Linked DNA regions of Homo sapiens. The protein of the gene in region 4 purifies or fractionates together with the protein of the main gene of each other region. This does not show direct contact. Each region holds a gene or a part of one and is shown on either strand. Other genes may lie near its edges.

Region 1 (6,108 bases), on a different chromosome or scaffold from region 4:
TGCTTAATGCCAGATGACTATCATCTTGAATAGTTTTTTTAAACTTGTTCAAGGACTTTCTCAGCTCTGCTCTCATTGTATCTTCACAACTCTGAGGTACGCAGCACTGATACTATTATTAGCATTGGACAGATGAGAAAATGAGGCATAAAAATGTGAAATGAGTTGCTCAAGGGTACCCAGCTAGTTATTGCCAAAGACACATTGTAACCTCACTTGAAACAGAGTTACTTACTAATAGTAGAGGAATTCAGTGATTGGGAAGGTAACATGGTTAGGGGAACTCCTCTGTTATTAGTAAGGTTATCACTAGAAAACAAATATGTGATCAATTTTCAGAAATAAGTACAACAATATTTTTAAATTTAAAATCTTATTTTAAATCTAGGGTCAGTGTCTTTTTTTAGGTTATTGAAGTTAATCTTTTAATTTTACTTAAAATTTTTTTATTTCAATAGATTTTGGGGTATCAGTGATTTTTGGTGGTTATATAAATGAATTGAAAGTGATGAAATCTGAGACTTTAGTGCACTTGTCATCTGAGTAGTACACATTGTACCCAATCTGTAGCTTTTTATCTGGCATCCTCCCTTCCAACCTCTGGCTTCTGAGTCTCCACAGTCCATTATATTACTCTGTGTGCCTTTGCATACAAGATGTCTTTTTCGAAGTCTGTCACACATTCTTCAAAGTACTTCTGTGCACATACTTCTCCTACCTCCTCACCACCTTTCATAGATGTATATTCTCCCAGAGACTAAAAAGATCCAGGTAGTTTCCATCAAGATATATTTTCAGAAAAGTATTTTTAAAAGATTACATAGTCACAGAATTTCAGAGGTAAAGGGAACTTTACTGATCAACTTTCTCTCCCTCCTCTGGTAGATATGTTTAATTCAATACATATGGAATGCTAACACTATACCAAATACTTCACATTCATTATCTTCATTAAATCTTTACCATCACTCAGTAAAGTGGGTACCACCAACACTACCACCAGCATCATCATTCCCATTTAGCAAAAGAAAAAACTGAGGCTTAGAGATGCCAAACACCTTGCCCAAGATTCCTGGGTGAGTAAGCTGAGGCCTGATATTTATATTTGACTCAGAGCCTAAGCCCCTATTCACCACCTTCCATCACCTGGAGTAACAACAGTCCAAAATGTGAAGGATAAACAAATACTTATGAAAATGCCAGTGAGGTGATCAGTGAACACTTCTCCCAAGAGGTGGAAAAGTGGCATCAGGGATAGGCCATCACAAGTACACAGGATTTCAGTAGGCATTCTGGACTGGAATCCAATCCACACAGATATTGAAGCAGAAAAGTGATAGGGAGGGAATAGGGTGAACTGTGAGAAAGAAAATATCAAGAGAAAAAATTGGAAAGAGATGAGAAGGCAGATTGTGAAGGGTCCTAAGTGTATGGCTAAGGAATTTAGACTGTATTTGTGTGCAATGGAAACCCTCAGAGGTTTTTAAAAGCAAGGTCCTTTAACAAAATGTGAACTGAATTTTAGAAATATAAACCTCATGAAAGAATGGAGATTTAATTAGGGGAGCATAACTTGATATGGAGGAGAGACCAACAGGAAAGCTGTTCCACCTCAGTAACTGGCTGTTTCACTCTTAACCATATGTTGTGCTTGCATTTTTCTCCACCGCCCACTCCCACTGCCCCTAGGTTGTTCAAGGCACCTCTATATCTGTTTCATATGTCTCCAAGTCTAGGTAAGGTGACAGGGACCTGAACTTGGGCAGTGGAAATGGAGACAAGAGGACAAGTGTGAGGGGTATTTTCAAGGGCCTGGTCACTGCTCAAAGTGGGAAGGGCAGTACGAGAAGGAGAAGCAGAGAAGAAAAAGACTCTCATTTTCAAACTTAGGAGAAGGGGAACAGATGAGATATAGAACGGAAGGGATGGCCAATAATATCACAAAGAGATGAACAAGATGGCCTGATCAAGGTCTCAAGGTCTCGATCCAACAAGTATTTATTAAGCAGGTACTATGTGCTGGACATTAGAGGAACAATGAGTAAAATCGGTTTTTGTCCACAAGCATCACCCAGAGTAAAGAAAAGAGTAGCAATAGTCAGATATCAGAAACATGGTGCTCCTTTCATTAAATGGCCTTAATTCATGAAGCATCATAAAAAATATACATAAACAACATACATATAGGTTTAAAGCTCCAAAACACCTTTAAAATCTATTCATCTATCTGTTCAATTATATTACAGTCAAAGAAGAGTGCAATAAGTACTTGCTGTTCCTTCTTCCTGTTCCTTCCGCTGGCCTTCTTCCCTCAATTATGGAAATAGCTGATCCCTTTTCATCATTCGGGTCTGAGGACAAATGTTATACCCTCACACCGCCCCTCCCGGTGAGTCACTCTATTTCAAGCATCCTCCCCCATCACATGATCCTGTTTTATTTCTTCATTGCACTAAGAATACCTGAAATGTATATGCCTACATTTATATAGTCTATTTCCCCCTGAGAACGGAAGCTTCATAGAAGGTGAAACAAATCTTGTTAGTTGCTGCCAGTCGCACAGTAAGCCCTCTGTAGAAAATGTTTATTGGCCACATTTTTTTAAAAAGCGAATAAACCTCAAGATTAAGACCTCAAACCAAACTATTCCAGTTTCCAATTGCTTACAGCGACATACTGAGAAATCGAGTGACTCTCAAGAGAAAGGCCATTTTGAGGCTGGGGTCGAACCAAAATCCAGGGGGTCCACACCAGGTCAGTACCCCGGAATTGGCTGTTTTGCAAGATTTCGGGAGTACCAAATTGGCATGAGACATTTGACAACGAGGCCAGCCATGCACCGAGCTCAGGTTTTATTTCCGTTGTCCTTCTGACGTCAGAAAAAGCACGAGTTGCTGCACAGTTTCTTTTATCAAGGTGACAAATTACACCCTCGCTGGGCCCTGCATTCTGCAAACCATAAATTTATTTTCCTCCTCCCCCTTATATTGAAAAATGTAAAAACCCACTGCAGAGAGGTCAAAACCCCTTCCAAACGCAAATAAATACCGTTTTCTAGCAGAGGCGTCTTTTTTCACTTTTGCTACACACATCACCGCGGATTCGTCCGAGAAAGTACGTGATCCTGGCGGCAGTTAGGTTTCTAACAGAGAACGAGGGTTTGTACAAACCCCGGGTCCGCGCCGCAGAGCAAGACAAAGGACTCTGAATTGTAGCACCACCTTCCCCAGCCCAAGGCAGCCTGTGAAAGGCACTGGGAGCGGCGTGACGCGGGTACCGCGAAATTCCTTTTGCTGCCATATGCACTTGTGCCTTCTCTAACTACAGTTCAGCACAAACCTCAGGCGGGCGATTTGGCAGGCAAACGGTGCCCAGGCAGCCGGGTAACCTACTGGGTCCCAGTGGGTGCTGGGGAGCCCCATGCGCCAGGAGGTGGATAATTTAGGGGGCAAGGGGCTCGCACAAGGGCGAAGATGCGCTCTCCTCCCGGCACCGACCCACGCGTTTAAAGGCCTCTGCGGCAACGTTTAGGGACGCGAACTAGGTGCCGGGGGTTGGGGAGGAGGTGGGACTGGAAGCGAGAGCAGTCTGCGCCCAAGACCGCGCAAGAGGTGGCCTTTTGTTCGCTGGCTCCAGCACATCCCGGCTCTCGAAAAAACACTACCTCTGTCCCCTGCCACCCTCTGCATTTTAGAAAATCCTCTTCAGGGCAGGAAAGGACAGTGAGTCACTGCAAGCATCCTTTAGTAATTTCTCCCCGCGCCCTCCTACTTCCCCGCGTTACAGAGGGGCAGAGCACCAGGAAGGACGGCAAACATGCCCCGGTTTAGTGGTGGTCCGCGGCCGCTACCCAGCCGGCCGCACGCAGCACCCCCCGGACATCACACGATCTCCTCTGGGCCTTGCGGACACAGGAAATTTTCACCAAAGGCCGGGGATTCAAACACTCCCAGAACACGGTCGCGCCCTCGGGTCAGCTGCGCTCTCCCTCCAGACGTGCGTGGTTCCTGGCTCTCGTAAAAATGGAACCAGATCTGGTACCACACTCTGCCACAGCCACAGGAAAACACACCAAAGTCACAGGAAAACAAACCAAAAAGTAAGCCACAGCCCACGCAAAGGTGAACTCGGGGGCCCTGGCGCTTCCTCCCGCTGCCGCGTGCGTTCGGGAAGCACAGGAGACCTGGACTTTTCCTCTCCTAAAAGCAACATCCGAAAGCATCGGGCACAGCCGAGCTCTCTCTGCTTTCACGCCCGCAGAGATGATTTCTACGTTACCTCCTCCTCCGACATCTAAATCTCCCCTTGCCGCTCGCCCAGCCCTCCCCGGGAACGGATAATCACCTTACCTCCGGAAATAAAGGGAAAGGTGGCAAAAGGCGATGTGGAGGTGTCCGCCCTTCCGGGGTTTTTACCCTCGGCAGTTTGATGTCCTTTGTGTCAAGGTCTGGCTGCGGAGGCCGGGAAAATGTGGCCCCCGTCAGTAAGGGTTGGGCAGGGAGCTTGGCGTGGCCTGGCGGATTTCGGAGGAAGGTGAAGGGCGGAGGCTCCTGGCGACCTTCTGGCGGAGTGGCGTGGCCGCCCCAGTCCGCGCTCGCCTGGCTCTCCTCCTTTCCGGGCCGATTGCATCAGAATCTCCCCTCACCACCAACCCCCACTCACACTCTGCTCGCCGGCCTCGCACTTACATCGACATGCACCGGCGCTGAGGGTCACGAATCGGAGTCATTCTCCTACTGGGGGACGCGTGGCCCTTCCGCAACCATGGCTTGTGATGGTTTAACGCGGACAGGCCATTCCTCCCCGTCCCGCGCGCGGTCTCCTCCCCTCCTGTGCGCCCGCTCTTTAACCAAAGCTGCGTGTCAGTGAGCCGTGCCGGTCACATGGTGTCACTGCTGGCGGCCGCACCTTGCTGCCTCCCTCTTGCAGCTCTCTGACGATGCAGCGACCGCGGCTGGCGGAGATTGAGCAACGGGGAAAGGGTGAGGGAGGGGTTGCGGGGCGCGCGTGTGCCCGGCGCACTGAAGCTGGCACCGGGAGCAGAGGCTGCGCGCCGCCCTGGCACCTGCCCCTCTCCCTCCCGGGGCCCGGCGGCGTGTTCGGAACCCAGCTGCGGCTGCAGCTGGAGAATGAGAGCCCTTAGGGATGGGGGTGGGGCGGCTAAAGGGGCACCGGCGGAGGACAGGAGGGCTGTGCGTTCCGCTGGGGCCTGCATTTTGGGTACGCCAGAGCCCCGCCGGGGCCGAAGGAGCGAGGGAGTTGCATTGTGGGAAGGGCGCAGCATGAGGATGGCCGCGGGAGTGGCAGGTCCGAGCGCAGCCCGGAGAGCCGCGGGCAGCGCCTGGGACTACGGGCAGCGTTGGAGCGGAGGGCTGGCCCTGGGCACAGCCTGCAGATGGCCCGGGTTGGCGGGAAGGGGACCGAAGTGGCAGGGGCGGCGGGGAGCTCGGGCACCTTTAAAAACCCTTTGTCCCTAACCTGAAGCGGGAGGCACCTCCCCTCTTCCGGATCCAGCACCCGCAGACCTGGTCAGCCCTTCCTGAGATCTGCCCTGTGGAGCTCTGCTTTGGGGACTGGGTGTGAGGTGAACCAGAAGGATTTGCTGAGCACCGAGAAAGCACCGGCCTAGGCGCAAAGAGCCGGGGGCCAGCTCTTGGAGGGCCTGGAGACCCCACGTGGTCCCGACCGAAGGACCTGGTGCGTCCAGGTTAACGGAGCTGGGGCGCTCCAAGTCCGGGGGACGAGGGAGCGGCATGGAGGGGAGCAGGGGCAACTGGGCCTGGTTCCCTTTTTTCCCGCTTACTCTTTGTTTCAGACACAGCCCCCTTTCACTGGCTGGGCACTTGCTTGCAGAGGAGTTGTGTCTTAAAATGGCGACAGGAAATCCCACCTGCGCCTCAGCCAATTAGACTGTCATAGCGCGAATTTGCAGGGTGGAAACGCGAGCTTTTTATTGATAGGGAAGGTTCAGTCTCCTGTTCATGGTTCATCAAAACAGGAAAGGGAAGGTGAATCATAATTCAAAAATTAACTACCTGGAGCGTTTCAAGTAGACAGTAGTCATTGTATTTGGGTGAATTTTGCTTTTTCATCACCACTGGAAAAGCA
Region 2 (5,567 bases), on a different chromosome or scaffold from region 4:
CTTCCACCCACTTTCCACTGCTCTAATTCAGCCATCCCGCTTCATCTTTTATCATGTTTATCGTATGTCCTAAAACTACCTTGTTTCCTTTATGCTCTTGAATTCATGTTCTCATTTGTCTGGAATGTTATTATTCAGTCATCTGCTGGGTGACTGTCACCCTCGTTTTACCTCTGTAGCTCTTGGTTCATATCTTCATACATAATAGCATATTGTTTTGTAATCATTTGTTTTTTCATCTCCTACCAGATGGAATTTGTAGAGCACAAAGGCACTGTCTTATTTATCTTGAACCTATCTTTCTCAGGCCCAAGTTGAGGCATAGGACTTACAGAAGATGCTTGATAAATATTTGGATAATGAATTTGCATCGTTAGTAAATTCAGACTAATCTCCTGACTCAAAGTATATGAAATGTTACTTGTATATATTGTAGCTGTGATATTAGCAATTAGTGTATAGAGATGCATTATAATGGTTTTGAAGGGGTATGGTCTTAAGGATTTATTGTTTTTTAAATCAGAAATTTTAGAATTTGATAGACAAATTCTGAAAGAGCTGTAACACTTTTTAATTAAGCAAGTAATCATACATACTTATTTTTAAAAATCAACTTGATTTCCTAGATAGAATAGTTTAGTCTGTTTTTATTTCCACAGTTTTATAATGTATATAGCAACATACACAGTAGATATAGTCTCCTATCACTTAAGGACAGGGATGCATTCTGAGAAATGTGTCATTAGGTTATTTTGTTGCTATGTGAACATCATAGAGTGTACTTATACAAACTTAGATGGCATAGCCTGCTACACACCTAGGCTATATGGTATAGGGTACTGCTCCTAGTCTACAAATTTGTACAGCTTGTTACCCCAGGCAGTTGTAACAGAATGGTAAATATTTGTGTAGCTAAACATAGAAAAGGTACACTAATTTTACAATACTGTATCATCTTATGGGACCACTGCAGTCAATTGTTGACAAAAATGTTATGTGACATATGACTGTATATGAATACACACACAAACGCGCATGCGTGCATACCATGTTTTTTGTTTGTTTGTTTGTTTGTTTGTTTGTTTTTTGAGACATGCTTGTTGCCCAGGCTGGAGTGCAGTGGCGCGATCTTGGCTCACTGCAACCTCAGCCTCCCGGGCTCAAGCGATTCTCCTGCCTCAGCCTCCCTAGTAGCTGGGTTTATAGGCGTGTACCACCACGCCTGGCTACTTTTGTATTTTAAGTAGAGATGGGGTTTCGGCTTGTTGGCCAGGCTGATCTTAAACTCCTGACCTCAGGTGATCTGCCCGCCTCAACCTCCCAAAGTGCTGGGATTACGGGAGTGAGCTACCACGCCCGGCCTGCAATTTTTTAAAACATAGATTCATACTACAGATGGAGAAGTTTGTAATTTTATCCTCAAATTCCCCTACTAACTCCCTTCCATAAGTTTTAGATATTCTCTGAAAGTGGGTTGGTGTCCAGGATGATTTTACTTTTAAGCACTATGTGTTTGGGCTTAGCTAGCTGGGTCCAGCCTGCCCTGTAGTTTTCTTGAACATGGAGGGCTGGGCATTGGTCCTGACCAAGTTAAGTGGTAGGTCTCCCAAGCAAGCGTTCATTCTACCCTAGGGGTAAGTGTCCTCAATTTTTTAAGGCATTTTAAAACTCAGTATTTGTCTTTACCTTTTCGTTTATGATTCTAAAATCGGTTTAGCATTATAAGATAGGGTGCTCTTTATGCATGCTAGTTTAGCAGTCTGTGTGAAAGTTCCCTTGTCTTCACAGTGTTGTCACATACTCAGCCAGTTTGTTGTATTGGGCCAGTTTCCTCCAAAGCTTTTCTGAAACCTATTTGTGAAACTCCAAGTAAATCACATTAAAATTTGATGCAATAGCTATTTGTATAATTATAATTTAGATGATTTAATCTGTTGTATTTCTGTTCACTCTTGTAGCCCTCTGATTCTGTTCACATTACAAATGATGATGAAAGATTTCTACATCATCTTATCATAGAGGAGAAGGAAAAAGATAGCTTTACTGCTGTGGTTATCACAGGGGTACAACCAGAACACATACAGTACTTGAAAAATTATTTCCACCTTTGGACACGACAGTTAGCGTAAGTAATTATATTTGGCTTAGGAAATGTTGCTACTTAACTTTTTTAAGGCAGAAAACATTACAGATATATTGAAGCCTCTTTGGTATCCGTTTTGCTCCTGTCTCATTTTCTTCCCTTTAGTATTATCCAGTACTCTGATATTGGTGTTAAAACAGCTCTCTATTCATTTATTCTGTAAATATTTATAGATCACCTCTAGTGTACTGAGCATTATTTGAGGCACAGGATTTTGACAATATTATAAAATTAAAAAAGAACTTCACAGTTTGTCAGATTGAGCACTATATCACTTCCATGACCCCGTTTTGTGCTTCTTTTCCATAGGACCTGTCGTAATCTTCCATACCATATATATTTATTTTTGTTGTTAAATTCACTGCTGTATCTCCAATGTCTTCTAGAAGAATACTTGCTACATGGTAGATGCTCAAATGTTTATCAAGTGAATGAATGCATCAAGCCTATTAAAATAAAAAATATACGTACATATGTGCCTATATGACATTAGTACTGAAAATAATCATTGTGTTTTTATTCCAGTAACACTTGTAGGGACTCTATATTCCATTAGACCAAATCAGAGGAATAGTTATTTAATGGCTCTAAAAAAAAATTTTTTTTTTTTTTTTTGAGACGGAGTTTCACTCTTGTTGCCCAGGCTGGAGTGCAATGGCGCACTCTTGGCTCACTGCAACCACCACCTCCTGGGTTCAAGTGATTCTCCTGCCTCAGCCTCCCGAGTAGCTGGGATTACAGGCGCGTGCCACCACACTCAACTAATTTTTGTATTTTTAGTAGAGACAGGTTTTTGCCGTGTTGGCCAGGCTGGTCTTGAACTCCTGACCTCAGGTGATCCACCCACCTCAGCCTCCCAAAGTACTGGGATTACAGGCGTGAGCCATCGCGCCCGGCCTAAAATTTTTTTTTTATAGCTATGTGATACATACGATTTACTGTATTGTTTCCCTAATTTGCATTAGTATGAATTACTGAGACTTGCAAAATGGGTACATCTGCTCAAAATTCATATTTTAAAAATGTATCTTTTTACATTTACCCAAAAGGCTATTGTTCTTGAGAGTCTCAATTTTATACGTAATTATACGCTAAGAGAATTTTAAAATTTTTTTATGGGAAAATAAATTTGGTTTTAGGAATACCTTTTTTCTTGTTGAAGTTGTTTATTATCCCTGTTACCCAAGGTATTTAAGTAGGACTTTGCAGTTTTCTTCAAGTACATATTTTATTAGCTATTTTATAGTTTATTGAAGGAACTCAGTGTACATTAACACATAATTTAAATATACTCTTGCTCTAATGAAGGATTATGAAGAAATATTGCAAATTTCTATTTCACGAATAAAGACGTGGTATTTTATAATCCTGAACAATGTTACCAAAATATAATCTTTTTTAACCTTTTCTGAAAAAATAAAGAGGTGTTATTTCCAAAATGTTGGTTTTCAGTGAGATGGTGTCAAACTTACTAGTTTTGTTTTTGGAATCTTAGGGTAAGATTGTCTCAGTGCTATAGGAGAGGAGAGATGAATGTTCTAGAACAGGGGTCCCCAACGCCCCGGTCGTGAACTGGTACCCATCTGTGGCCTTTTAGGAACCCGGCCCCACAGTGAGTGGTGGGCCCGAGTGAGCATTACCACCTGGCTCCGCCTCCTGTCAGATCACTGGCAGCACTAGATTTCTCATAGGAGCACGAACCCTAATGTGAACTGTGCATGTGAGATATTGCGTGCTCCTTATGAGACTCTAGTGCTTGTCGATCTGAGGTGGAACATTTTCATCCCAAATCACCCCCCTTCAACTCCCATCTCTGGAAAAATTGTCTTCCATGAAACTGGTTTTGGTGCCAAAAAGGTTGGGGACTGCTGTTCTGGAATGGTATTCTCTTATTGAGATTAGATACCTAATCCAGTTTACCACCGATAATTGAGTCCTTTCTGGAACGTACCTGGTAAGTAGAATTATAGACTCTTGCTGTCTAGTTTATATTTATTTGATGAATTATTCCTCTTGGAAGTGGTGTATGTGGTCTTTGAAGTTGGAAAGGTCTGGGTTGAAGCCCACGGCTCCCTAACTCTATTCTGTGATGTCAGATAACTTACATACACTTCTTGCACCCCAGGTTCTATATCTGTAAAATGAGATGCAGTAATACCTGCATCTCAATTGTTTTTACCATTAAATGGAATATGTATTTTAAAATGCTTAATAAAGTGCTTGATACCTAGTAAATAGTGTTAAAATATTTTGATAGAAGATTACATTAACTATAATTTTATGTGAATTAAAAGTATAAAATTATTCTTCTCTATTTTAGGCATATTTATCACTACTATATTCATGGCCCAAAAGGAAATGAAATACGAACATCAAAAGAAGTTGAACCTTTCAACAATATTGATATTGAAGTAAGAGAAAAATCCATCTTAAAATAATAAAAATTATGAGATATTTGTTCCAGTTCCAAATGACTCAGGATAATAAAAAACACTTGATAATTAGACAACTTCTCTCTCCTTGTTTTTTACCAAACTACTTTCATTGTTTGATATCCAACTAAAGAGATTATTCCTAGATGTATTTTTCTCAAACCTTTATTTACTGTAGGCTTGGTTTATCTTTTTTTGTCTCTCTTCTGTGGAGCTATGCATTGTTACTGAACATCAATCATCTCTTGAAGCATGGAGGAAAAGGGAGATAATGTAGCTTTCCTTTTGTTTGTAGAAGTTATATCGTGGTGACAAGGTTTAGCAGCACAGAGCATTTGAGTATTGGATTCTCAATCCTCTAACCCACACGTTAGAATTTCACATACGATGTTGTCCCACTTCCTACCTCTAGCAAGAAACCTCGAATTAAATGTACTCATGACTTTTCTGTCCTTCAGCTCTGATTTGCTGTTTCTTTGCTTACTTTATATTTTTTAGTAGTATGTTCCTTATTGAGATGCTACTTAAAGCTGTTTAACTCATATGTAAATATATGTATTTCATTAAGCCAGATTGTTACTTGTACAAATAAACATAATTTTTACTTATTCTGTTGTTGAATCATAGCTGAGAACAAAAGTAAAGTTACCATAGAATTTAATTATTTTTGTTTCCTTTTTATTTTAGATTTCTATGTTTGAAAAAGGGAAGGTACCTAAGATTGTCAACCTAAGGGAAATACAAGACGACATGCAGACGTTGTATGTAAACACAGCAGCTGATAGTTTTGAATTCAAAGCTCATGTTGAAGGAGATGGTGTAGTGGAAGGGATTATCCGTTATCATCCATTCTTATATGATAGAGAAACTTACCCTGATGATCCATGCTTTCCATCAAGTATGTTAATCTGTTATCTTAGTTATAAAATATGAAGTTGTAATTTAGGACAGTGATTTGTTTTTCTAAATGATTATCGGTTGGGTTATTCAGG
Region 3 (5,567 bases), on a different chromosome or scaffold from region 4:
CTGAGAGCCCCAGCGCAGCTGCCAGCTCGGCAATCTCCGTGTGGGGAGAGTCTGCAGCTCTACGTGACACTGGGAGGGACACTAGCTATGCCACTGGATAGCATATGAAAAAATGCACTGGATTGTGTGAATTTTTAATCAGCTAATTTATCAAACATCAAGACCTGACAGCCAATACCCATGCTGTTAATAAAACCCTGCTGGTTTAAACTGAGTCACTGGCAGGACTGAGGCAGGCTTCTATTCTCGGAGGAAAGCTGTCAGCTCTTGGATTAAGGAAGAGCTGTTGGGGGAGGGCGGTGCTGGTGGTGATGAGAGGAGGATGTCCCTGGCTCTGTCCCCTGACAGTAGGAAACAGGGAGTGCCCAGTGCACCGCGTCCCATGTGCTCCCTCATTAACCATGTGGTGTTAAAACTCTTCAGGGCCCTATTGCACAGAGGAAGATGCCGGGGCACAGAGAGTGTGAAGGGTGCCTGAGGTATGGCCAGGACTTGGACCCAGGCAGTCTTGGCTTTACAGCCTGAGGCCCTGACCCCTGCAGGACACCACTGTCCCTCCACTCCCTGCCACTGCCCTCACATCTGCCGGTCACAGCAGGAACATGGACCTGGCATCCCCAGCTCTTGTACTAACGAGTTTCACTTCCTTGCTCTGGGCCTGCTTCATTATTTAGAAAATGAACAGGCCCCACTAGACAGCTCCGCACTCTCTCCCAGCTCCAAAACACTCTAATGGGGAACGGGCTCCAAGGATCTCAGGGGTAAAATGGGAAAACAAAGTGCACACTATTCTCTAAAGCCAGAAGTACCAGGAGAGAGTTAATTCCCAATAAGATTGTGTTTAACTGTGGGAAGCCAACAGAAATGGCACCTGTCAGCCTTCTAGTTTATTAACTCATGTCCCATTTTACTATGGTGCCAGTATTTTAAATTCTTTATCTTATAAAGTCAACATTTTAAGTCTGGACATTCAGAGTGGGGAAAAATAGAAGCGCTGAAAACTATAACTGAATATTTTAGCCAAATTTTGGACAAGAAAACTAAGTTCGATTCAACAAATACTGATCGAGTACCTGCTGTAGGCCCTGCATTGCTCTACCTGGGGGCTAAAGGGGAGGGCTCCTGTCCTTACGGACTTAGTCTAGTGGGGGAAAATAATCAAAAACAAAAACACCCAAAAGTGAAAATAAATTCCAAAGACATTATAAATACTTTCACTCGAAAACATTAACTTCTTCAAGTACTACTTTTTTTCAAAAAGGAAATTAAAGTCCTTTTGTACCTAATGCAGATACTATCAGTGGTTTACCACATCATATTAAATACCTTTCACTAAAAACATTTAAATAACAAATAAACCCATTTTCACACAAAGAATCATTCACACAGGTTACTGGTTATATTACTTTCGCTTTATGTAATTAAAATATTTAAAAGCTGTGAAATCAACATGCATCTGAAGCTTTACTGGGTTACACATATTGTTAGGTGCACTATTTTGCAACATACAAGGGTCCAACACGAAGCCACGGTCACAAGTGACACCCGAACACCCACAAGAGCCCTCTGCTCCTCCCACACAAGTTGACGAGCTCCAGTTTCAGGACGCCTGTGCCTGAGTCTCTGTGAAGGCCGCATGTAGGTGTGTGTATTCTCCAGGAAAAGAGTCCACTGGTTCTCACGGATTCCCAAAGAAGTATGTATCTCAAAAAGCTGTAGAACCATTTCTACTCTGGTCTGATGAGTTGAACAAATACGCCTTCATTTCTCATTTAATATCAAGCACTATATTATCTTCAAAACACAGATCAACCTGGATTGAAACTGAGATTGGGCCAGATGAAATTAAGTGTCACAACTGTAAAAATGTTGGGTATGTCATGCTTCCTCAGGCTTTGGAGGCCCAACTTTTTTTTTTTATTTTATTTTTTCGTTTTTGAGACGGAGTCTCGCTACCTTCCAGGCTGGAGTGCAGTGGTGTGATCGCGGCTCACTGCAAGCTCCGCCTCCCGGGTTCACGCCATTCTCCTGCCTCAGCCCCCCATGTAACTGGCACTACAGGCACCCGCCACCACGCCCGGCTAATTTTTTGTATTTTTAGTAGACGGGGTTTCACGTATTCGCCAGGATGGTCTCGATCTCCTGACCTCGTGATCCGCCCGCCTCGGCCTCCCAAAGTGCTGGGATTACGGGCTTGAGCCACCACGCCCAGCCTGGAGGCCCACCTTTTTTAAGGCACCCTCGTCACAGTGGTCACCACTGACAGGGCCCTTATCATGTACCTGGCATCCTGCTGAGGGCCTTGCACACATCACTGTGCTCAGGCCCCACCGTGAGCCCATGAGATGAATCCATCTCCGCTGTAAAAAAAGGAAAGCTGGGCTTCGCAAGATCAGTAACCTGCCCAAGGTTACAGAGCCAGTTCATACAAACAGCAGAATCTGAGAATTCCTCAGACCATCAACTTTTCTGCAAGCTAGCCCCTGCTTTTTTTTCCCTTATTTTTGCCCAAGAAGACTTTCAAAGACTATCCTAAGAGGAAATCGGCTTCCTAAGTAAAAGTAACTCCAAACCCTCTCCACACTGCCATTTGTGCTTTAAAACCCAAATATGTCCACAGAACAATGCTGTTCTCTTGCAGAAATGTCTATGGGCTACCACCCACACGGATACTAAAACTTTAAGGGTTGTTCCTGAAAAAGACCTCTAGGATCCGAAACACTGCTTTTGTCTGATCAAATAAGGCCCTGGCAAAAGACTAGTGTCAGCTAAGATGGGGCTATATTTTTTTTTTTTTTTTTTGAGACAGGGTCTCACTTTGTCACCCAGGCTACAGTGTAGTGGTGCAACCATGGCTCACTGAAGCCTTGACCTGACCTCCTGGGCTGAAGTGATCCTCCCACCTCAGCCTCCTGTACTTTAATTACTAAAAATTCTTTAGTGCGGTCCCACCATTTGCAGTTTTGAATTATGTGTCTGAATGCCACAATGACCCACTGGCATTTCCAATAGGTCATGTAGACTGGTGAGATCTGCCAGAACTCCACACAGGGACAGCCGGAGAAATCAGAGATGTTCAGGAGCAAAGTAGGCGCACAGGGCTATTTTGGTGAAGTTTCAATCTACCACGTGGAAGGAATATTAGACACATTCGCTACGGCTCCAAGAGCATGAGTAAGACAAACACAGACAGGCCGCAGGCAGGCAGATGTGTGAGTGGGCCCGCAGAAGAATGTCCAGCAACCAGTGCCATGCCACAATGGGGTGCACGGCTCAGAGACACAGGACGCTCTGATGGCTGAGTGATCAGCCTCCCACCCAGCAGCCTCCAGGCATTTCTACGTTGATCAAAACATTCCATGAGGGGACTGACTACAAAAGGTCCCAGAGACTTCTCTGGAAGGATGGAAATAATCTATGCCTTGACTGCACTGGTGGTTACACAACCTGAGTAAGTTTGTCATAATTCACAAAACTGTACAGATATAAGGGGTAAATTTTACTATCTGTAAATTATTCCTCAATAAAGAGTAACACAAACACTTCTGAGCTCTCTTCTTGGGCTTAAGTTCTGGACTTTATTAACTGGCATCCAACATCACCAAACATGAGTCATAGTTGGCCAGTGACTTGGAGGGGTTCTGAGGACACAGGCCTTTCTGTTTTAACACCTCAGTTCATGGGACTTTGGTGCTAACACTGGGTAAGTCCCATGAGATCATCTGGTTACCCTCAGTGCATCTCGCCATTCTGCTACTGCACCTTCCTGTCAAGAGTTACAGACCTGACCGCCGTATGATGGACCTGACCGCCGTATGATGGACCTGACCGCCGTATGATGGACCTGACCGCTGTATGATGGACCTGACCGCCGTATGATGGACCTGACCGCTGTATGATGGAGCCCATGCTGACCTTTAGGTAAGAGGCAGTGGCTTACTTTTTAAAGAGCAGAGACAGGTACTGACAGCATAAGCAACTGCTTAGTTTTTCATTCAAATGTATTTCAAAGCTTTTTAAAATAAAAAGAAACATGTATAAAGCATGTCTTCTGTCTCCTCGATGTCCTCCACAAATTTCTACCTTTATAATCTGGCACCAAAGGAGCTTCCGTCTACACTAGCAGTGAGAGAAAGTGCAACGTGGGGTTAAAGCATGAGCTCTGGAATCAGGCCACTGGCCTGTCTTTAAGATGGGATAATAAGACCGCACCCGCCTCCTTGGGGAAATGCAGTGTTAAAGGAGAGAAGACATGTAAACCACTCAGCCCAGGCCCAGCACACAATAAGCACACAACAAACCGAAGCTAGGATGTTAATAAAGAGATCGATAAAGTCCTTTCAAACAGCCCAAGATGAGAACTAAGTGCTTACCCATTACTCTGGCGCTCTCCACTTCGCTTCTGGGAACAGCAGGAATACGTCAGTATCTTGAACATGTCGGTGAAGGCACTGCCATCAGGAGGCTTGGTGATGAAAACGCTCTGGCCACAGAGGAAGACCACAAAAGCAAGGCCGACGCAGACAGTGGGGATCGCATAACCAGTGACAAAGCTGACGTTCTGCTGAATATAGGCAATGCCACCTAACGACAGGATCGCTCCCAGGTTAATGCTCCAATAAAACCAATTAAAAAATCTCCTAGTGGCTTCCGGACCTCGATCTTTAACCTAAAATAACAGGGAGGAAAGACACTTGAAAATATATGACAGTCTTCAAGGATGAAAACCATATACGGTCAAGTGGTTAAAATTACCGTTGTCATCACAACCTTTAAGAAGCGCAACACAATCAAAATTGTGTTTACAGAAACATTCACGGATCTCAACAAAAAGCACACCCCACGCTTTTAATTACTACAGTTGCTAGGTAGGTTTCACTTAATTACACTAAATTCCAACAAATGCTAGAGAGTTTTTCCAAGTATATTCTGCTGTAGAATTTTCTAAGTACCTGAACCACTTGCCTTGGAATTACCTGGAATGCTCTTTAAAAACAGAGTCCGCTGGGCATGGTGGCTCACGCCTATAATCCTAGCACTTTGGGAGGCTGAGGCGTGTGGATCACTTGAGGTATGGAGTTCGAGACCAGCCTGGCCAACATGGTGAAACACCGTCTCTACTAAAAATACAAAAATTAGCCAGGCATGGTGGTGGGCACCTGTAATCCCAGCTACTTGGGAGGCTGAGGCAGGAGAATCGCTTGAATCCAGGACATGGAGGTTGCAGTGAACCGAGACTGTGCCACTGTACCTGGTTGACAAGAGTGAAACTCCATCTCAAACAAACAAACAAACAAAAAACAAACACAGTCACAGGACCCACGCTCCAGACCTACTGAATCACGGTCTCTGGGGCCCAGGCCCAGGAATCTGCATTTCAAGCAACTTCCCAGGTGACTTCTACTCACAGGTAAGTTTTAGAACCAATGTTATAAAGCTCCATGCCTTACTGAGCTACATGCAAGTACCATGAGGCACCCCACAAATATGCTTAGGCCCCAAAGAGAGACATTTGTTCAGTGAGGCCAAGTCACCACCCACACCAATTGTATCTGGTCTCCTGAGAA
Region 4 (5,567 bases):
CTGGGTCTGTTTTGTGATCACATAATTCATGACGACATGGGTAGCTTTAGCCTTCACCACTGGGAGCTTGTCCACACTGTCAATGGCCGATGACAGGGACTGGCAGGGGAGGGTAGACTGGCCTCTCCTTCCTCCACCTTGGTGAGGTGCTGATACTTGTGCTCTGAAATCACTGGCTTCCAAGGGATGCTGCCCATGTCTGATGGAGGAGGAGTCATGGGTGCAGGGTCCTTGAGGGTATCATCATAGCTGAGTGCCCGGCGGTATATCCTGAAGGGCAGGGACATCTTGCCTAGAGGCCCACTAGCCTCAAGAGCAGGCACTTCTGGTTGTCTTGAAGCCATTGAAAGGCTGAGATCCAGGTGTTTTTTCTATATAGAATCCCTGCCACCACGGTGAAATGATGTGACGACTAAGCTGACAGATGGATGTTAATGAGGAACATGGTCCAGCTGCTGCAAATTAGCAAAACTTCCCAGGAAGAGTCCATCCAGAGGTTCTGCTATCCTGCTGCCGCGGGACTGCCTGTGGCCGGGAGTCCGGCACTAAAAAGATTCCAAGGGCCTACATCCCCAAGAGGCTGTGGCGCATCTGGACCCAAGCCATGGTGAGAGTGGCAGTGACTTCAAAGGTCTCCAGGACTCACTAGGCAACACTACCCGACGTTTACAGATTTTAAATGCATCTCAATCCCACAGGAAATTTTTTTAAAACGTTAACATATTTTCATACATGTATTAAAGGGGACTTTAAAATGAGATTGCATAAATGAAAATATGTAAATACTATATGCTTCATAGAGAAATCAAATGGGAAGTAAGAAGAACTAGATATGCATTATATGCATTAATATTTTTGTGAAAATAAAGCTTGATCTAAAACCTGTATCTTTGTCATATTTTCTGCCACCACATCAACCACTGGGGGGCAGCATCAAACATTATTTTATAACTTCTCTCCTTGGTCTTCTAATAGGGGAAGCTTTAATGCCAGGCCATGTAACTTATAATCTAGTTAATACAAACACTAATAAAGGATGGAACAGGATTAGAACCCAATATTGTTTGATTCCACAATCCATGTTTGTTTTCACAGCATCTAACTGTTTCTCTATCCTTCTATTTCTCCCAGGATGTAGGAACATGCTGTCTTTTAAGATTTCTATTACCCTGAATAGCCTACAATCTCTCTGATATGACAGTAAATGTGTTTCTCCAAAACCAAGCTACAGGTAGGACTAATTTAGTTTTGCAAAGACAGATAAAAACAATAAGCACTTACTTAATTACTTCGGAATTCATCCTTAAGAATCTTTAGTTTTAAGGCATAAAATGAAACAAATAGTATAGCTTCTGCTGAATTTTTCTTAAAGGCACAGACTGAGAGGGAACTGCCAATATCAACTTCTAGAACCCCGTTCACTGACCTTTCAATAATTCCTTAGCAGAGGGAGAAGGCATATGTCCACTACTAGAAGGAATTGGCAGCCTGGAAGTTGGTCCACTGGGGAGTATATATCAATAAATGAGATGGGAGCAGCAGAGGGAGATCCCAGCACTCCATCCCAGACCAGGAAAGGCAGACAAGGAAGAGCCACTCAGAACTCTGGTTCAGCTTGGTCCTGAGAAACCTAGTGCAGGGCTTGGCCTTATGGGAAGACATATGATCGGGGAGCTTTAGTCCCTGTAAGTTGACTCACTCCACTAGACATAAATGGCCAACTCTGCTAAACATATCTACCCTGAGTACCTTCCTATGGAAGAACTTCATGCTAAGCAGTCAAGCCTTTCCAAGGGGCTTAGTGGCTAACAGGGTCCCAAGTGTCACTACTACAGTTGTTAGCTTGTCACACTTCCATTGATTCAGTTAGTAAGGAGACAATGAGCATCAATGGATTCAGGAAGTTTATTACTTGCACAGATGCCAAAGGCAAGATCAACACAGGAAGACACTGAGCCTTGAAGAGCAAGATGACTGACAGTATGGGCAATGGGTTGCCCTGCTGGGGAGGAGCAACCCTTAAACCACGGCCAAGAAATTGTACAGACTTACACAAAAGACTGTAGCTGAACCTTAAGTGGGAGCAAGGTGGGGAGAAAGGAGGGAAGTCTTACACTCAACGGAAACCAAACGGGAGATAGATAAGAGAAGGTCAGTCTCCCACAAGACAGGGATAAGAAACTGCCTCACAGTGGCTCCTCAATAGGCTTTTCTTCCTGCTGTAGGGGGTATCTCTGGGTGTTTGAATAGGAGTGACGATGGCGCTCCCTGAGGTGCGTGATTAGTTCTATGGGTAAGACAGCAAGGCCAAACTGGCTAGAATCCTTCCAGAATTTTCTGCAACTACCGGGAAGTATTCTCTCTCATTTCCTGAGATAAAAAGTTTTATTTTTTGTTCTAGAATTTTTTATTGTGGTAGAATATATCTAACATAAAATTTATGATTTTAGCCATTTTTAAGTGTATGATTCAGTGGCATTAATCACATTCACAGTGTCGTGCAATGAACACCACTATCTGTTTCAAAAACTTTTTCATAACCCCAAACAGAAATCTAAGCATTAAGCAATAACTCCCCACTCTGCCCTCCCCATAGCCCCTGGTAACATTAGTACCTTTTCTGTCTCTATGACTTTGCTTATTCTAAATAGTTCATGTAAGTAGAATCACACAACATTTGTCCTCTTGTGTCTGGCTTATTTAACTGAGCATAATGCTTTCAAAGTTCATCCATGTTGTAGTAAGTATCAGAACTTCATTCCCTTTCATGCCTGAGTGATATTCCACTGTGTGTATACACAGCATATTTTGTATATCCATTTGTCCATCGATGGACACTTGGTTTGAGACAGGGAGTTTTAAAGAAAATGTAAGCTTATAGCTCCTGGGGTCATCTTTCACACTTGGGCAAAAGACAGCTCTAGAATGAAACCACAACACAGAGGGAAGTGGAGCTGGCCGCCGAGGGGGAGGATGATCACTGTTGAAGACCTTAATCCAGTTATGCCTAAAACCAGCCCTAACTCTGACCTTTTCAGTTGCAGAGGTAGAATATTCCCTTTTTTTTCTTAAGGTAATTTAAGTTGGGCTTCTCTTCCCACAAACAAGAATCCTAATAAATCAACAACTTATCAAAGAATAGTTATGTTTTAGAAAAGCAAACTAAAAGGGAATTCATTTTATGCCTCCTAAGTGCACAGTGAAATATTTAAAACTTTCTTACTGCTAAATCCTTGTCATTATTTTAAATGTAAACTGTTCTTGTCCTAAGTAGAGAGAATCTTTTACATAAATGCTGTTGCTGTTACTGCCACTCTCTCACCTACCAAAAAAATTTAGTGACCTACAGCATCTTTTCTTCTCAAAGTGTGCACGTAATTGATTCTAGGAAAGATCAACCAGAGGCTGTCCACAGCATAATTCCTGACTTTATTTCCAAACTACTGTTGCTGTTGGACCTCTGTTTAATTTACATCTTTTTTAATACTTCCTTATTTTAAAAAGACTATTCTTCATCAATAGCTTTTATCATTTCTGTTGACTTTTTAAGCCCCACAATACTGTTGATTTTACACCAATCTTACCATATGTAAATTTCCCCAAGAACTCTAAAATTTCTGAAATATCATAGAAAAAAATTATATAACACATGTAACTGATGTTTTCTAGTCACTGATTGAATAATAAAATGGGACCGAAGAAGTTCCAGGTTAAGCTCTCTGTTCTGAATTGGCCCTCAAAATTAAGATCTTTTCACTAAATGAAGTTCAACAACCTCCTTTAATTCATTTCACAATGTATCAGCTCTCAATCTCTAAAAACACACCCTAACATTTCATGTTGTGTACAGTGAGTGCTTTCTTTCTCTCCCTCCTTTCCTTCCAGTTAAATCCTTTCATTTTTCATATAAAGTCATGCAAAATTCTAATTCTTAAAAAGAGAGACAGGAGCTGTTATAATGAAGCTTGGAGCTTCGCCTACTACCATTCTGTTACCCGCCCACATCCGCTGTGGCCCTGGGCAAAATAGACTGAAAAACCTTTGTGGTGAGGTGTGCTAATTTATAACTAAAGTTCTATTCTCCAGGCAAGAGAATAATTCTTCTTATATTTCTTTGTATGTCTTATATTCCAATCTTTTCACCATTTTTGAATCCTTTCCAAATTCATCTTGAAAGACTCTAAAAACGTTAAGGGCTTTAGTAAAGACGCAATAGGCTGCAGAAAACGGAAGAATTGCCTCTGAGCTCCTTGTTGGACTCCAGTTAATATAATCTACTTTTGCATTTTCTAAGCATTCTGACTGCCATTGCTATTTTTTAAATATATAATAGCTATATTGAGCTGGTACATGGGGTAGGCACTATACTTTTTTAAAAAGTGTTTACATCTATTATTTCTTTTAATCTTCATATCAGCCTGAGTCCTGGAGCTGTCAGCATTTACACTACATCAATGATTTTAAATCTTGGCTGCAAATTATAACTTTTCTAACTTGGGGAACTCCTGGTGCTGTCAGCATTTACACTACATCAGTGGCTTTCAACTTTGGCTGCAAATTATAACTTTTCTAACTTTGGGAACTTTTGAAAACTCCATACCAATTATAATCAGACCAATTAAATCAGAATCTCCAGGGGTAGGAACCAGGCATCTGTGTTTTAAAAAACTCCCAGATGATTTACTACATGTTGCCAAGATTGAGCATTACCACTCTAAGAGGAATTCTCATATCAGCTGCTGAGAAAATTAATTTTCTGTGTTTTCTTACCCTAATACTCTTCAAAGATAGTAAAAGTGCATGAATGTGTACTTCCCCCAACGATGCTGCCATTACTTAGAATATATTTCAAACTCCTTTTTTTTGGAATTGCTTTTAGTCAATTTGCCAGCCACTGCTAGAAAATTCTTTTCACTGCCCACGGCAGGATTTGGGGGAGTGCTGCAGAGCTGTGTGTGCACCTGAGGAGACCATCCTCCCTCTGGCTGTGCCGGAATCCACAGCAGGATGAAAGTGGATACAGAACCCAGCAGGATCCTAGCAAGGCCACTACTCCAGGCACACCCCAAACACTCCCCATTTCATCTTCTTAATGCTTAGAGTCATAAAGCAGGCTAGCATTAGAACTGATTTTCTGTCTCCTCCTGGGAAGTGTTCAGAATTAACATTCCTATGCCTTAAGTTTTCATTTACCTCAGCTACCACGAGTCCCATTCTCTCCCAGCCTATCCCTCAACTTTGGACTCAAACCCATCAGACTGTGAACATCCCCTAATCTGATTCAAGCTCCCTACTCCTCAATACTTGCACTGTGTGCTCTGGAACCCTGACATCTACAAAATGCCCTGCATTCTCCATTACTTCTTTGAATGCTTCCTCCCCCTTCTTAGTCTAATGGAAACTTGGCTTTTCCACAGAAACACAGCTTTCTCAATACCTGCAATATCCCAGTGCACACAGGAAATACCCAAGAAATGCTGAATACAGGAATGACTCATAGTGCCATTAATAATACTTTAGACTTTGGGCAGAGGAACAAGATACCATGAGAGAATGAGAGATGCTGG
Region 5 (6,064 bases), on a different chromosome or scaffold from region 4:
GAGAGGCTGCAGGGAGCAGGTTCTGTCCAGATGAGGAACCTGCCTGGCACAGCTGGGCCACTCTCCTCCCAGGTGGCCTCCTAGGCCCATGGGTCCAAATCTCAGGTCCACAGCGCCTCCCGAAAGGCAGAGTCCAGTGGCAAATGCAAGGGCCCCAAGTGAGCCTGGGGCAGACTGGACGACACACGCCACCCAAAGCATCGCAAGCTCTCCCTGCGGCTTGGGCCAGAGGGGCAATGCCTCAGGTGCCCCCCAAGGCTTGCCAGATTAGAAAAACCACCAAGAAAAGGCAAGGTCCGTGGGCAGGAAGGGCCTGGCTGCGCGTGGGAGGGAGAGGAATCTGGGCTCTCTGGCACCCAAAAGCGACCCCAGCCACTGGTGCCAAGTCTCACCCTACGCTTGGGCTACGTGGGGAGCGGCTTCTGCAGAAGGCACGTGGTTTGAAAAAGCAGTCACCTTCCGCCAGAAATGTAGTCCCAGGGTCTAATTCTGTGTGATGCTGGTGGGAAGGAGGCTACTGAAAAGAACTGAAGGGTTGGAGACAGCCGGAGACCCCAGTGTCTGAGGACTGAGGGTGAGGCTGCGGGTGAGGATGAGGGTGAGGGTGCGGGTGTGGGTGGGTCCTCACCCGCACCCTCATCCTCACCCGCACCCTCACCCTCACCGTAGCCTGAAGGGCCAGCAGGGGCCAGAGAAGGCAGCAGGGTCCCCAGGACCAGGTTGTTCTTTGTAGTCCCAGTCTGCTTCCTCTGCAGAGGCCCACAGGAGGACACGCCCAGAGTCTGTTGTCCCAGCAGCAGGGCCAGTTTCCTCCTCACACCCCTGGCAGGGCCAAGGCTCAGAGTCACCCAGAACCTGTTAACCTAGCATGTGAGTTACTGGCACCTCCCTCCCTGTTCAAGGGGTGCAATCCCCACGTGCCCATTCCAACAAGTGGGCAAGACCCAGATCCTGCCTGAAGTCAGCTGACACTCAGCAAGCTCACTGGGGGGCCAGACAGTGGTCCATGTCCCAGAACGAAGGCAACAGCAAGGTCTGAGGACTGTCCCATGTCCTTGTCCAAAAGCCAACAGTGTGCACCTTGCCACTTGCAAATGAGGCAGTCATGTGGCTCGTGAGGGAACGTTTTGTGGCCTCTGTCCACAGCCCGCTTGAGGAAGCAGGAGGGCTGGCCTGGCGTGGCTCTCTCCCAGAGCTCCAAGGGCCCTGCTCCCTCCTGCCCCCAGCACCAGGCTGCACGTTGGCTTTTCTGTGGCTCATCTCTGACCACCTACAACCATCTGCTGGGGAGAGCACCAGGACCCAACACGTTCCAGTGGACGAGTCCAGGAAGCCAGGAATGTATATTGGCTCAGCAGTACCCACCCCAGAAATGGATTAACACTCATGGAGACATCCGGATCGAAGACCTTGTAGGCACAATACTAAGCTCGATGAGTTAACTTTTCATTCTACAATGGGCTGAGAAAAATTTTGCCATTTGGAAGTCAGACCGACCTGGAGCCAAAACTGCAATGGGGCTTGGTCAAGCCAAGGGGCCCATCAGAGCCCCGAGGAGAGCCGGCCTCTCTGGGCTTAGTCTAGCAAGGAGAGCATGTCCATCCACCTGGCCACCCTTCACCTGGCCCAGCCTGCCCTGCCTGCCACGTGCCCAGCCAGCTCTCCACCATGGGAGGGACTTGCCCAGCACCTGCTTTAGGGGCCACACCCAGTGAGCTACAGATTAGGTCACGGCCACTCGGGAGGGAAGCTCCCTCATGAAGAATTTTCCAGGCACCACCTGCTGACCTTGCCCAGCAGGAAGGCAGGACACAGCCTGCTGAGGGCGGTCAGGGCAGCCTGGCTGTGGTCAGCGTCCAGGTCTCACCGAGTGGCCGGCCTCTGCCCTGGCTCCCTCCAGCAGCACAGAGGGAAGTCGGGCTGTGTGGTCTCGGCCCGAGCAACATCCTACTGGTGTCCTGCGATCACTGACAACCCAGAACAGACACTCTGGCCCAGTAACCGCAGGCCCAGCTCTTGGGACGCTGTTCTGGGTCTCCGGCCTGACCCTGCAGTCGCCTTTTGCCTCTTTAAGAACAGAGTCGTAAAACAGGAGCCCAAGCCTGGATCAGACAAACCTGGAGTCAGACCTCTTCAGCACTTACAAGCTGTGTGGCCTAGAGTCAATCACTTAACCTCTTGGTGCCTCAGTTTACTCATCTATAAAGTGGGAGTGATAATGGCCACCTCGTGGGGTTGCTAGGGACTGAATGAGACGATGCTCAAAGCAGGGGTACCATGCCCGGCACATTCCAGCACTCAACACCTAACCCCTGCTGTCACTGTCCTTGTCATTATTACCAGATTCACAAGCGGAGCCGGCTAAGGCCAAGGAGCTGTCCTCTGAGATCCATTTGCTCCCGCTGCTGGGAATGAAAACGTCGCTGACACCGGGCTCTGCAGAGCCAGTTTCTGATTAGATGGAGGTAACCCAAGTTCCAAAAACCACAGCTGAGGAGCAGCAGCTGACAAGCTGGTTGCATGGATGTGGAAAACTACCGCGTTCCAGCCGCCTCCAGACAGAAACAGGACGCATAGCCAGGTCCCACGGCAGCTCCAAAGAGGGCCTTGCACGCCAAGCGGGGCACCCCCCAGCCTGAGGGTTCACCAACCACGCGGACCACGCGGAAACCTAGCTGGGCTTCTCTCTCCCCTCGGGGCGCCAGTGCGGGAGGCGGTTTCTCCCTTGGAAGTGGAAGTCAGATCTGCTTCCAGGTTCCCGGTCTAGGGCCGGTCTAGGGCAGCTAAGCCTGCCTGCTCCTTCCTTTCCATCCTCCCTGGTCAGGGGAGCCCAACAGCAACGCGAGGGCACCCGACCCTCTGCCTGCACCTGGAGGGCGCCCGGGTCCCCCCAAGCCACGGCCAGGACGTCGCGTGGTGGGGCAGGGAAAGGGGCGCCGCCGCTGCTGGAAACTAGCCCTGTGCGCTCCGCCCGCGCTCCCCTCCCGGAGATGTCTCGAGCGCCTCTGGCGCGAACAAAGCCCGGCCGCCCCCGAGAAACTTCCGTGCATGAAGGTTTCCTCCTTGACTCGGCAGCAGCGGCCGCCGCAGGTGGGTGACTCCGCAACTCTGGAGCTCCGCGGAGGCGCGTTCGTCCCCAGCTGGATCTGTGGGGCCTGCGCCTGCGCGCGCTCCGGGCCACCTGCCCAGGTCACCTGCCCCGGCCACTCCGACAGTCCCTGCCAGGGCCGCAGCCCCTGCTCACCCGCTTCCCCCCGGCACCCGCTGCAGCGTGGGGCCCCTTCGCCTCGGTCCTCCTGCGGGCGACTCGGGAGCTCCTACCTGCGCAGCCGGCGGCGGGAAGCGGCGAATTTGGCCTCCGATTCCGCTCGGTCCTGCCCTCCCCCGCGGAGAGGCTCGGGGCGCTCGGCCGGTGCCCAGGCCTCCCGCCCCCGCGCGCATCCCCCCGGCGCTCCAGCCCCTGCCCACGATGGCGGCACCTGCCGCGCTCCTACGCCAGCAGGTCGGGCCCTGTGCACCCGCGCCAGCTCCCCGCTCCCCGCGCACTCACCGTCCCCGTCTCGAGGGCCCGGCCGCCGCGCCGCGCAGCGCTCCACGCTCTGGCCTCCCCGGCAGCCACGCGCCGCTTCATTCATCCGCTGGGGCCGCCCCCGCCGCAGAGGGAGGGGCGGGGTTTCCTGCGCGGGGCCCGCCTCACCCCCCACGGCCAATGGCAGCGGCGACCGCCCCCTCCTCCCCCCCAGGGCACAGAGGCGGGAACGCGCGGCGGGGGACCAGGGCGTCTCTCTCCGGAGCGCTGCCGCCTCCTGGACTCCCCGCTCCAGCTCCAAGGACCGGCATCGCTGCCGCAGCCGGGAGGCCGAGAACGCGCGGTGGCGACGCCGCCCCAGGCCACGCGGCGAGGCGGTTCCGAACGGACTCGGGATTCGCTCCTGGGCGCTGTGGGGCCGAGTGGAGCCAAGCGGCCGTTTTTCAGCTCCGCCCTTCCGAAAGGCTGCCGCAGGGTCGGGGCCACGTGGGGCCCGCGGCAGAGGGGCTGGGGGAACGCCACGGGCGGCCCTGGTGAAGGTGCCCGCCGGTCTCGGCCTGACCCCCAGGCCCTGTTCTGGCACGCGCCCCACCTGCGCGCACAGTGAGACCGGCGCCCTAGCCTGGGAATCCGGGGAATCTCCAGCCCGTTGCCTTTTCCATAACCCCGTCTTCTTTTTCACACTAGCTCTGAGGGTGGAAGGCAGGGAGGTGCCAGCCACGTTCCCTTCCACAGAGGGAACTCCCTGTTGGAATTCCTACCCCGGCTTCCTGCCGTCTGTCCTGGAACACATTGCTCCAGGCCTCCGAGCCTCAGTTTCCTCGTTTGCAAAATGGGGGCGATAACAGAGCGTCCTCAAAGGGGATAAGACGGAAGAAGTTGGCTCATATCAGGGCTCATAATTGTTGCCAAGTATTAACAGGTAACCACAATCACACTCCACAAAGCTTCCCTTTTAGTGTCAGTGAAATTAATTTAAAAGAAGTTTCCGAAAGTCAAGTGTGTGTGTGTGAATCCTGAGATAAGTCAGGTAAGGGGGGAAATGACCACCTCACGGCCCCAGGCTGGTGAGGAAGTCCTAGCCACGGAGGCGGTGCTGCAGGACCTGGCCTGGTGGCATAGCGTGGCGGGCGGGTTCACCGTGGAGAGACGAAGGAGGTGCTGCGGCTTGTGAGAAAAGGCCCACAACCCCATGCAGTTATTTATGAAATGGTTTTCCTTCCTCCAGGGCTTGGGGCTCCTGCCCACTCGTATCAGGTCCCGGGACCCCCCCGGTGGTGTCCTCAGGGCTCCCGCCGTCCCAGGCCGCCCTCCACTTCTGGAAGCAGACACGAGGCCACGAGACCCACTGCTTTTGGGTATCTGCTTTCATTCCTGACACTGCCCTTTAAGAGAAAAAAGTACCCACATTGTTCCCAGATGGAGAGGGTCCCTCCCAGAGGGTGAGGCACTGCCACAGGGGCTCACGGCCCTGCCAGGAGTGGAAGGTGCACACCCAGAAGTATTTCTCCTGTGAAGGAAGGGGGCTGAGCTTCGCTGCAGACCTGGCCTCAGGTGTGGATGAGCTTCGCTGCAGACCTGGCCTCAGGTGCGGAGTCTGCGGGAGCAGCATTTCCAGGCAGACCTGACAGAAGGTGCCTTTGAGAGGTGGTGAGCTCCGTGTTACAGGAGGCTTGTGAGCACAGGTAGCCCATCTTCTGGTGATGATGCTGGAGAAGCAATTCAAATGTCAGAAGCAGGACTGGACTCTGTTTCCAAAACTCACGTCTGGATTCTACCCCCTGAAAACATTATTTACACAATGTTTTTCCTTTAAACAATTCACACATTTGATTAAAAGGGTAAGTTTATTTTTTAAAAAGTCAGTGTCAATTACCACAAAGAGGTCACCATAAAAATAGATAAAAAGAAACAAAATGGCATTAAATTCTAGCCAAATATTGCTGCCTGTGGAGGGCTCCCGGCCTGAGACCCGCCTCAGACCCCACCAGGCATTCTTTGGGATTCCTGCATAGGCACCATTGGAAAGGTAAATCCAGAGCAAACATTTCAGGTACATTCGTGCAAAATGCAGGCCCTCAGTCCTGTCCTCAAAGGCAAATGCTGGTGCCCAGGCTCCTCAAGAGGCCCCTAGGAGCACCAGGAGGCCTTGACCCAGGTGAAGGGTCCTGCCGCAGGCCATCAAGGGGGTCTGCAGGTCTGGCCCAACTCCAGGCCCTGCGTGGTGGGGTCCATCTGCACCAGCTTTCGGGAGCCGACTGTGTCCTTACTCTTGCCCTAGAGGACTCGGGGGTCAGCTACAGAGCACAGCAGTGTCTTGGAACAAGGGCAGCCTGATTATGTGCCCTGGAACATTCTGAACTCAATAAGTTCTATCCCAGCAGGGCTTTTTTTCTTTCTTTTCTTTTTTTTTTTTCTTTTTTGAGAGGAAATAATTAAAAGAAAAAGAAAGCGAGAACCCCCTGGCTCCCCTGTGGCCTTGCAGGGTCGTACTGCTGCCTGTCCGGGCGGCTTCAGGAGGCTCGGAACAGATGC

What was found.
Region 1: the proteins of QRFPR (region 4) and SLC38A1 fractionate together in Homo sapiens (co-fractionation; one large-scale study listed by BioGRID). This does not show direct contact.
Region 2: the proteins of QRFPR (region 4) and SMCHD1 fractionate together in Homo sapiens (co-fractionation; one large-scale study listed by BioGRID). This does not show direct contact.
Region 3: the proteins of QRFPR (region 4) and SLC15A4 fractionate together in Homo sapiens (co-fractionation; one large-scale study listed by BioGRID). This does not show direct contact.
Region 5: the proteins of QRFPR (region 4) and SLCO4A1 fractionate together in Homo sapiens (co-fractionation; one large-scale study listed by BioGRID). This does not show direct contact.

The regions. Positions count from the first base shown.
Region 1 is NC_000012.12:46,264,177-46,270,284, forward strand, and holds the start of SLC38A1 (sodium-coupled neutral amino acid symporter 1), read right to left. Parts: upstream 4,868-6,108; 5' UTR 4,350-4,867; exon of another isoform or gene 4,279-4,349; intron 3,812-4,278; exon of another isoform or gene 3,049-3,811; intron 2,341-3,048; exon of another isoform or gene 2,270-2,340; intron 1-2,269. UniProt on the Homo sapiens protein: Symporter that cotransports short-chain neutral amino acids and sodium ions from the extraccellular to the intracellular side of the cell membrane. The transport is elctrogenic, pH dependent and driven by the Na(+) electrochemical gradient.
Region 2 is NC_000018.10:2,692,569-2,698,135, forward strand, and holds part of SMCHD1 (structural maintenance of chromosomes flexible hinge domain-containing protein 1), read left to right. Parts: intron 1-1,958; coding exon 1,959-2,125; intron 2,126-4,463; coding exon 4,464-4,554; intron 4,555-5,262; coding exon 5,263-5,473; intron 5,474-5,567. UniProt on the Homo sapiens protein: Non-canonical member of the structural maintenance of chromosomes (SMC) protein family that plays a key role in epigenetic silencing by regulating chromatin architecture.
Region 3 is NC_000012.12:128,810,402-128,815,968, forward strand, and holds part of SLC15A4 (solute carrier family 15 member 4), read right to left. Parts: exon of another isoform or gene 4,977-5,567; intron 4,670-4,976; coding exon 4,374-4,669; intron 1-4,373. UniProt on the Homo sapiens protein: Proton-coupled amino-acid transporter that mediates the transmembrane transport of L-histidine and some di- and tripeptides from inside the lysosome to the cytosol, and plays a key role in innate immune response.
Region 4 is NC_000004.12:121,370,002-121,375,568, forward strand, and holds part of QRFPR (pyroglutamylated RF-amide peptide receptor), read right to left. Parts: intron 1-5,567. UniProt on the Homo sapiens protein: Receptor for the orexigenic neuropeptide QRFP. The activity of this receptor is mediated by G proteins that modulate adenylate cyclase activity and intracellular calcium levels.
Region 5 is NC_000020.11:62,640,040-62,646,103, reverse strand, and holds the start of SLCO4A1 (solute carrier organic anion transporter family member 4A1), read right to left. Parts: upstream 3,602-6,064; 5' UTR 3,551-3,601; intron 1-3,550. UniProt on the Homo sapiens protein: Organic anion antiporter with apparent broad substrate specificity.